Regions from separate parts of the Homo sapiens genome. Here regions 2 and 3 are each linked to region 1. The links come from fine-mapping of genetic effects on gene expression. A gene starts in region 1. Each other region holds a variant in brackets. All regions are shown on one strand. Distances are from middle to middle.

Region 1 (2,760 bases):
ACCAAGAAGCCAACGACGGGCGAAACCGCAGGGGCCTGCGATAGAGACGCCAGCGGCGCCGCCGGGGGACTGGGTTCAGGAGGCCGAGCAGGAACCCGTGCGTCGGCGCTCGCGGCGCTGTGAAGAGACGGCGTCCGCGCAGCTCCTCTGCCTCTGGCTCGGAGGAGCGGCGGGCTCCCCCGCCCAGCGCCGGCGTCGCCCGGGAACCCCAGACTCTGCGCAACTGGCTGCGATTCCAAATCCCTCAGATCGGCTACCAGAGCGCTGCCGCCACCGAGAAAATGGAGGCACCGAGGAACAAGATGTGCCGCGACCAAGAGAACTCGGCTTGGCGAAATGGCGGTGCTGGGACCCTAAGAGTGACGCCAGCCGGAGGAGTTCCCAAGGACAACATCCATTTTGGCGGAACCAACGGTGTTGTCACGCAGAAAATGTCGACCCTCGGAAAAGAGAGGTTCTGCGACCGAGAAATTCGGTGCAACAAGTGCTGTGACAGAAAACCCCCCGCTCGGCGCTGCTGGCGAAAGAGCCAACAAAACGCTGGGTGCTGCCACCGTGACACCGACTTTAGGACCCCGGCCTCGGATGGAGAAAGGAGGGTACGGAGCCACCACATAACTTCCTAATGTCTTCAAATAGCGAAAGTGCTAGCCGGAAACTGCCGGCTGGGTTTACCTATTGGTGCTCGTGTGGGACTAGCAGATTCGAGAAACCAGCGGGACTGGAACCTAGTACACTTCGGCAGTTGAGAAATGACTTACCAGGACAAATACTGCTTCTGGCTCGATGGTGCTGCCCATGAACATCCGCCGGCTCTGAGAAACGAGCTGCACTGTCAGTGAGAAACCGTGGGCACTGAGAAACGAGCGGACTGCAACTGATAACTGCCCACCCAGTGCCACTACGACAAAGTGCTGCTGGCACTACTCCCACCCTCCGTCCTCAAATCAGTCCCCTCCCGCCTAAGAAGACCTTTATTTTTCCTAGCGAAGTCATACTGAGGGCCCCATCAACCGATCCCTTGCGATGCGCATGGGAAAAGGAGGCAGTATAGGGACCGAGAATCGGGCGGATTGGGCTGGCCCTGGTAACAAAAGCCATCCGGGTCGCCAACCGTCTTCCACTGCAAGAAACAAACCTTCCAGTGGCTGGGCTCCGCCCTTCTCCTTGGTCAGAGCCCTCCAGGCTCCTAAGGGCGAAGCCGACACCTCATCCCTTTGGAACTTGAAGTTCTCAGTCCAAGACCTCCGTGGAGAGTGAAAGACTCAATGCCTCCTGACCGAGGCTTCAGGCCTGCCCCGGCAGCTAGGTACCTCTCCAGGGGATGGAACTCTGTGGGAACTGCTATTTAATTCTGATGGTTAACTCTGTCAGATGGCCTTGATATATGGGAATAATCGTTGCAGGAGGGTAGGGGAAATAAGAATCGCAAGACTCTAGCACAGGACGTGTGGATTGATGGTGAGGCCTTTGCTCCCTCTCCCCTTGAAATCCTCAAAGGGCAGTTCCCGATTTCTATCACCTTTGAAATTCATCCCTGATGTCTTCTCCATCTTTGGGAAGTGCAATGCAATTTCAAGCTCTTGAATCTTCCCTCTCCCACATTTGTCAAATATACTGACGCTACAAACTCCTTTCTTACAGGAAACCTGAAACTGCCATTGAGCAGAAGGAAAACATCCCTTTCCAGAACCTTTCTCGTTTTTCTAAAAATCTGCACTTTTGGAAGTGATCCCCCAAAGAGACCTCCAGACTCTACCATGAGTGTCTCCAGCTGAACTCATCGTGTCTAATCCTCACCCTAGCTTATCCTGTTCAAATCATTTCCATCTTTTTCTGGATGAACCTGGGCGGATGTCAGACCAGAGAAGAGCACAGAATGTACCAGAGAGGTAAGAAGACCCATTTTGGGCTCTCACTTCTCACCCACTCCCAAGATGGTCACCTCCAGTCTTCCCCCCTATACCTTACCCTTTCTTCAGCTAGCCAAAACCTGCCCTGGTACTTGAGGCTTCTTCAGTTGCCTTCTTTTGCAGGCAGTAGAATAAAGGAAAGAGGGCAGTGTCAATAGAAGAAAAGTTACAGCCACTTTATCTAATTGAAGATACTGTGCAGAGCCTTTGAAAAAACAAAATATCTCACCCACCATTCCTCTCTCCGTTTCCACCCTAGCTTCCTATTTTAGCAAAAATGGTGGGATCAGCACCTCTGGAGGGAAGGGGTCACTCTTCCAGGTTAGGAATGTGGACAGGAGTTATGGAGCTTACTTCCCTAAAGGAGGAGGCATTCTAGTTCCGGCATTCAGATTCTGTCTGATTCCAATATGGTGTTTGTGTGGGGTGGTCAGAGAAAGGGCAAGTCGGCAACTGTATATTCCTCAGCAAGAGACTATAAGACATTTGCATTTGGAAAATCAGGAGAGATGCTGATATGGTTTGGCTCCGTGTCCCCACCCAAATCTCACCTTGAATTGTAATAATCCCCATGTGTCAAGGGTGAGACCAGGTGGAGATAATTGAATCATGGGGTTGGTTTTCCCCATGCTGTTCTCGTGTTAGTGAGTGGGTCTCACGAGATCTGATAGTTTTATAATTGCCTGGCATTTTCCCCTGCTGGCACACATTCTCCTGCGGCCCTCTGAAGAGGTGCCTTCCATCACGATTGTAAGTTTCCTGAGGCCTCCCCAGCCATGCAGAGCTTTGAGTCAATTAAAACTTCTTTCTTTATAAATTACCCAGTCTTGGATATTTCTTCATAGCA
Region 2 (2,760 bases), 41 kb before region 1:
GCTCCCCAAATTAATACTTTTGTAATTTCTTATGCCTGTCTTTACTGCAATCTCTAAACATAAATTGTAAAGATTTCATGGACACTTATCACTTCCCCAATCAATACCCTTGTGATTTCCTATGCCTGTCTTTACTTTAATCTCTTAATCTTGTCAGTTGAGGAGGATGTATATCATCTCAGGACCCTGTAATAATTGCGTTAAGTACACAAATTGTACAGCATGTGTGTTTGAGCAATATGAAATGTGGGCACCCTGAAAAAAGAACAGGGTAACAGCAATTGTTCAGGGAATAAGAGAGATAACCTTAAACTCTGACCGCCGGTGAGCCGGGCAGAACAGAGCCATATTTCTCTTCTTTCAAAAGCAAATGGGAGAAATATCGCTGAATTCCGTCCCTGAGAAAGAGAATGCGCACCTAGGGGTAGGTCTCTGAACTGGCCGCCCCGGGGCGTACCTGTCTCTTATGGTCGAGATTGCAGAGGTGAAATAAACTCCAGTTTCCCATAGCGCTCCCAGGCTTATTAGGAAGAGGAAATTCCCGCCTAATAAACTTTGGTCAGACCAGTTGATCTCAAAACCCTGTCTCCTGATAAGATAATATCAGTGACAATGGTGCCAAAACTTCATTAGCAATTTTAATTTCGTTTCGGTCCTGTGGTCCTGTGATCTCGCCCTGCCTCCACTTGCCTTGTGATATTCTATTACCCTGTTAAGTACTTGATGTCTGTCACCCACACCTATTCGCACACTCCCTCCCCTTTTGAAAATCCCTAAAAAAACCTGCTGGTTTCGGTGGCTTGTGGGGCATCACAGATCCTACCAATGTGTGATGTCTCCCCCGGACGCCCAGCTTTAAAATTTCTCTCTTTTGTACTCTGTTCTTTTATTTCTCAAGCCAGTCGACGCTTAGGAAAATAGAAAAGAACCTACGTGATTATCGGCGCAGGTCCCCCGATAACCTGTGATCCTGTTTTGTGATATCAAGTGTTTTAAGTCTTTGATGTTTGACAAACTTTCCAAAATCCAATTCTAAATTCAGTCATTTTCATCTCATTAGTTTTTTTGACATTGAGTCCCCTGAAATCCAAAGAGACATATTTGGCTTAGTTGGTATAATCACACAAGAAGTATTATCAAATATAAAATGATATGTAACCATCTTTGCATTGTATTTATGTAAATGTGTTATTAGTGTTTTAAAATTGTATGAGATTCTTCTGATTGTGATATGTCTTAGTATATGTTTTCAGAACTAATTATGATTATTATATTCAAATGTTATATATCATAGATATAACCACATTTCTTTGTCAGTTGTGTCTTAAACCATGGCTATTGTAAGACTTTTGTCATCTACAATTATTGTTTTACTTAGATCCTTTCGTAGAGTGGTTTATAATCAGTTATAGAGCTCTGAGACTACCCTT[TTTG/T]TTGTTGTTGTTGTTGATGTTTGCTTTTTGAGACAGGGTCTCAATCTGTCACCTATACTGCAGTGTGGTGGCATAATCACTGCTCACTTCAGCCTTAATCTCCTAGACTCAAGCAATCCTCCCACCTAAGCCTACCAAGTAGCTGAGGCTACAGGCACGCACCATACACTCAGAGAATTTTAAAAATTTTGTAGAGATAGAGTCTCCCTCTGCTGCCCAGGCTGATCTCAAACTCTTGGGCTCAAGCAATCCTCCCACCTCAGCCTCCCAAAGTGCTGGGATTACAGGCATAAGCCACCACACCCAAGATTTTAATACATTTATCATGTCTTCATTAACAAATACCAAGTGTCTATATTGTACTACATAGTGAACAAGGTCCCAGAGATAAGTAATCAACAAGCAGACATGGACTTGGCCATAAAGTGTTTGACACCTTCATGGATTGTAAAAAAAAAAAAAAAGCATGACAACAAATAAATAAATAAAACCGTGTTTATATGATAAATGTTATCAAGAAACTTAACGCAACTTAGTTGAAAAGGTAACTAGGAGGATATTATATTAGCTACTATAGTAAGGATAGAATTGTCACAGATACTTCCACTTCGATATGAGTAATGCAATGAACAACACCAAAAAACAAACAAACCAACCTAGGCTGGGTGCAGTGGCTCGCACTTGTACTCCTAGCACTTTGGGAGGCCAAGGCAGGCGGATCACTTGAGGCAAGGAGTTCAAGACCATCCTGGCGAACATGGTGAAATGCCATCTCTACTAAAAATATAAGAAAATTTGCTGGGCGTGGTGGCCCACACCTGTAATCTCAAGTTACTCAGTAGGCTGAGGCGAGAGAATCATTTGAACCCGGGAGGCAGAGCTTGCAGTGAGCTGAGAACACACCACTGTACTCCAGCCTGGGCAACAGAGCAAGACCCTGTCTCAAAAAAAAAAAAAAAAAGGTGGAGTTACCATCATGAGAGAATATAAAGTACAAAGATTCTAAGACTAGAAAACTTTATTATGGGCCGGGCATAGTGGCTCATGCCTGTAATCCCAGCACTATGGGAGGCTGAGGCAGGAGGATCACTTGAGGCCAAAAACTCAAAACTAGCCCAGGCAACATAGTAAAATACCATCTCTAGTAAAAAAAAAAAAAAAAAAAAAATTAGCTGGATGTGTTGGTGTCTGCTTGTAGTCCCAGCCACACAGGAGGCTGAGGCAACATAATTGTTTGAGCCCAGGAGTTCAAGGCTGAAGTGAGCTGTGATGATACCACTGCATTCTAGCCTGAGCTACAGAGTGAAACCTTGCCTCCAAAATAAAA
Region 3 (2,753 bases), 49 kb before region 1:
CCTTTCCCTCTGCGAATCACACTGGGTGGGTCGCTGGGGGCCTCGGTAATTACGGATTATGGCACAGCCAAGAAAAATACAGGTTTTCTTAAGCCTGAAGCCACTGACTTGAGGGGGGAGAGTAGGAGTAATGCCAGCAGCAGTTTTGTATTTGGTTTTTGTTTTTATATTCTAGTCTCTAGGCCACAAGACAATGTTGCACCCAGTGCCAGTCGATCCGTCACGGCGCCGCAAACTTTCCCTGAACGGAGGGTTTGTGGCTGACATCTCTAGTTTCTCAGAGCCTGGGAGTGATCACTGGCTGCACCGCTGATGGCGCCCAAAAGAACGCGCATTTGTCTTTGGCAACAGCGCTGGGTTTCGCCTCGTGCCCGCGCCTGAAGGGTCCTAGCGCCGCCAGATTCTCACACTCGCGGGTCCAGCGCCCAGCGCTGCTCCTCCCACCAGTCATCGGTTTCTCACACGCACTTCATTGGCAGCACTGGCGAGTCAGTTTTCCGGTGGCGGCGGCGCTAGTTGGTCTGCACGAAACGTTTCCCTTCTCGCTCCGTGTGTCCCATTCTCCATCCCACGTCCTCCAGTGCCGGGGTCATGGTCGCAGCACCCGGCGTTCCCGTTGGCTCTTTTGCCGCTGCGCGGAGCCGGCGGTTTTTCTGTCACAGCACTTGTACGGAGTTTCTCGGCGGCCGAACGTCTCTTTTTTTCTCAGAGACGACGGTTTCTTGGTGACAGTACCGTTGGTTGCGCCGTAACGAATGTTCTCCTTGACAGCCCCACCAGCTGGCGTCACTCGCAGGCTCCAGACGCCGCCATTTCGCCAAGCCGAGGTCTCTTGGTTGCGGCACTGCTTCTGGCTCGGTGCCTGTATTTTCTCGGTGCCTACAGCGCCCAGGTCGCCGATCTGAGGGCTTCGGAGTACCGGCCGGGCGCGGTGGCTCACGCCTGTAATCCCAGCACTTTGGGAGGCCGAGGCGGGCGGATCAGGAGGTCAGGAGATCGAGACCATCCTGGCTAACACGGTGAAACCCCGTCTCTACTAAAAATACAAAAAAATTAGCCGGGCGTGGTGGCGGGTCCCTGTAGTCCCAGCTCCTCGGGAGGCTGAGGCAGGAGAATGGCGTGAATCCGGGAGGCGGAGCTTGCAGTGAGCCGAGATCGCGCCACTGCACTCCAGCTTGGGCGACAGAGCGAGACTCCAACT[CAAAAAA/C]AAAAAAAAAAAAAAAAAGAAAAGAAAAAGAAATCTGGGTACCCGCGAATGCGATTTTTTTTAGGTTTACCGATGATCAGTTTAGCAGTGCCTGGGAGCTCTTATACCAAGTTTGTTTTCGCAATATTGAGTCCCACCTTAGCTAAGCTTGTGTGTATTTTAAACTCCCATGGAAGTCAGGAAATGTCCGCAAACGCGATTTCTGGTTACCAAGCTCCGTTTGGCAATAGCAAGTCCTGCCGAACGCGACTTTTTCCTCTTGTGGACCAAGTCTGAATAGACCAGCTACTGCGATTTTTAAGTCGTAGTAAAAAAGGTTTAACCGTGACTGCTTTTTTTTGTTGGTGTTGTTTGTTTTTGTTTTTGTTTTCGTAGGAAATGTAGACTTAGGTGTAACATGTACCGGTTTAGATCTGACAGAGATATCACAATTGTAGGATTGCATCTTTTAGCAAGGTTTGTAATTTCTTCTTTCTAGGATTGGTTCTCTGTAATTTTTGCTTATTTTTAAATTCTCTCTTTGTCTTTTGCTCTGAGAACGATGTTACCGATGTGTTTGCTTTCCATGTTTACTTGCATTTTAGCCTTTATTTTTTTAATTTTGATTTTATTTAAATGTTATGTATTTTTTTTCTACTAATTTTGAGCGTCTCAGCTTCCTGCTTCTTTACTTACATTCTCTCAGGATCCGGGGAGCCGAGCTCGGTCTCAGTCTCCCTGCTGTCAGGTGCCAGGTTGTGTCTGGTGGCTCTCCTTCGTATGCGGAGCTGATGGTTTTGCATCAGCGCTTTTGCCAGTAGAGCCGACTAGCGTTTTCTCAGTTACGGCACCGTTCTTAGCGCCCAGTGTGACGTTTCCCATTCGCCAGGTCCTTATGTTCTCTGTGCTGTCACTTTCTTGGTTCTCGCACCGCTAGTATCTGCTAAAGAACTTCCTAAACCATGTTTTACTGTGCAGAACGGTGATTGCACGGAGCCGCTGTACGCACTAGTAATTTCATAGCACCGTTAGCTGGCGCTTTTTCTGTCACAACACATTAAAACGGGTTAAAATACTGCAAGCGGATTAAACACATTAAGAGGATTAAAACATTAAAATGTCTCAACACATTTTTCTGACACAACACATTTAAACGGAGTGGGTTCATTCCTCCGAAGAGGATGTTTAGGCGTGGAAGCACCGCTGTTTCCCAAGAGCACGGTTTCTCTCTGGCAGCACCACTTATGGCACCAAAACAGGTATTTTTTGGCAACACCAGCACTATTCGCTAGGTGCCGGCGCTTGCTGAGTCCCAGCGCCGCCAGTTTCTCTTTCGGTCGTTAAGTAGCTCAGAGCCCTAGCGGACAGTTTTCAGGTGGCAGTAATGCTCATTTCCTGGAACAGATGGTTCGTGGCCCTTGAAGCGCTGCGATCTGTAAAGCTAGTTCTCTGCAAGGTTTGCTTAGTGTCTGTTTTATTTCGGTTTCTTTTCTTGCTATGTTTATCTGTCGGAATTACAGTTTGTTTTGGTTCTATGTAATCTCTAAAATGTTATCGTTTTTCTTTT

Which allele goes with the higher level. Alleles are on the strand shown, and positions count from the first base shown. SD is a standard deviation of normalised expression in the study named. Not every link is listed here.
As copies of TTTG replace T in region 2, the expression in thyroid of the gene that starts at base 1,114 in region 1 goes up (small effect, 0.27 SD a copy in GTEx).

The links.
Region 2: its variant is fine-mapped to the expression of ANXA2R-OT1 in thyroid (GTEx, PIP 0.92).
Region 3: its variant is fine-mapped to the expression of ANXA2R-OT1 in whole blood (INTERVAL, PIP above 0.99).

The regions. Positions count from the first base shown.
Region 1 is chr5:43,066,326-43,069,085 of GRCh38, forward strand. It overlaps ANXA2R-OT1 (ANXA2R overlapping transcript 1), which reads right to left and starts at 1,114. Exons shown (of 3, transcript NR_104651.1): 1 at 973-1,114; 2 at 762-832. LOC100132356 (a long non-coding RNA gene) reads right to left here and starts at 646. Exons shown (of 1, transcript NR_034127.1): 1 at 1-646. It overlaps LOC100506639 (a long non-coding RNA gene), which reads left to right and starts at 698. Exons shown (of 3, transcript NR_102752.1): 1 at 698-1,461; 2 at 1,645-1,892. RefSeq lists an enhancer at 326-725.
Region 2 is chr5:43,024,913-43,027,672 of GRCh38, forward strand. All of the region lies in intron 2 of ANXA2R-OT1 (ANXA2R overlapping transcript 1), which reads right to left. It overlaps LOC105374748 (a long non-coding RNA gene), which reads left to right. Exons shown (of 3, transcript NR_188279.1): 3 at 1-2,760. Among named protein-coding and RNA genes, the nearest start is that of ANXA2R, 14 kb to the right of the region's middle. The variant TTTG/T (reference allele first, on the strand shown) is at 1,431.
Region 3 is chr5:43,017,654-43,020,406 of GRCh38, forward strand. All of the region lies in intron 2 of ANXA2R-OT1 (ANXA2R overlapping transcript 1), which reads right to left. LOC105374748 (a long non-coding RNA gene) reads left to right here and starts at 492. Exons shown (of 3, transcript NR_188279.1): 1 at 492-1,019; 2 at 1,583-1,663. RefSeq lists enhancers at 1-60, 459-981, 521-660, 2,728-2,753. The variant CAAAAAA/C (reference allele first, on the strand shown) is at 1,202.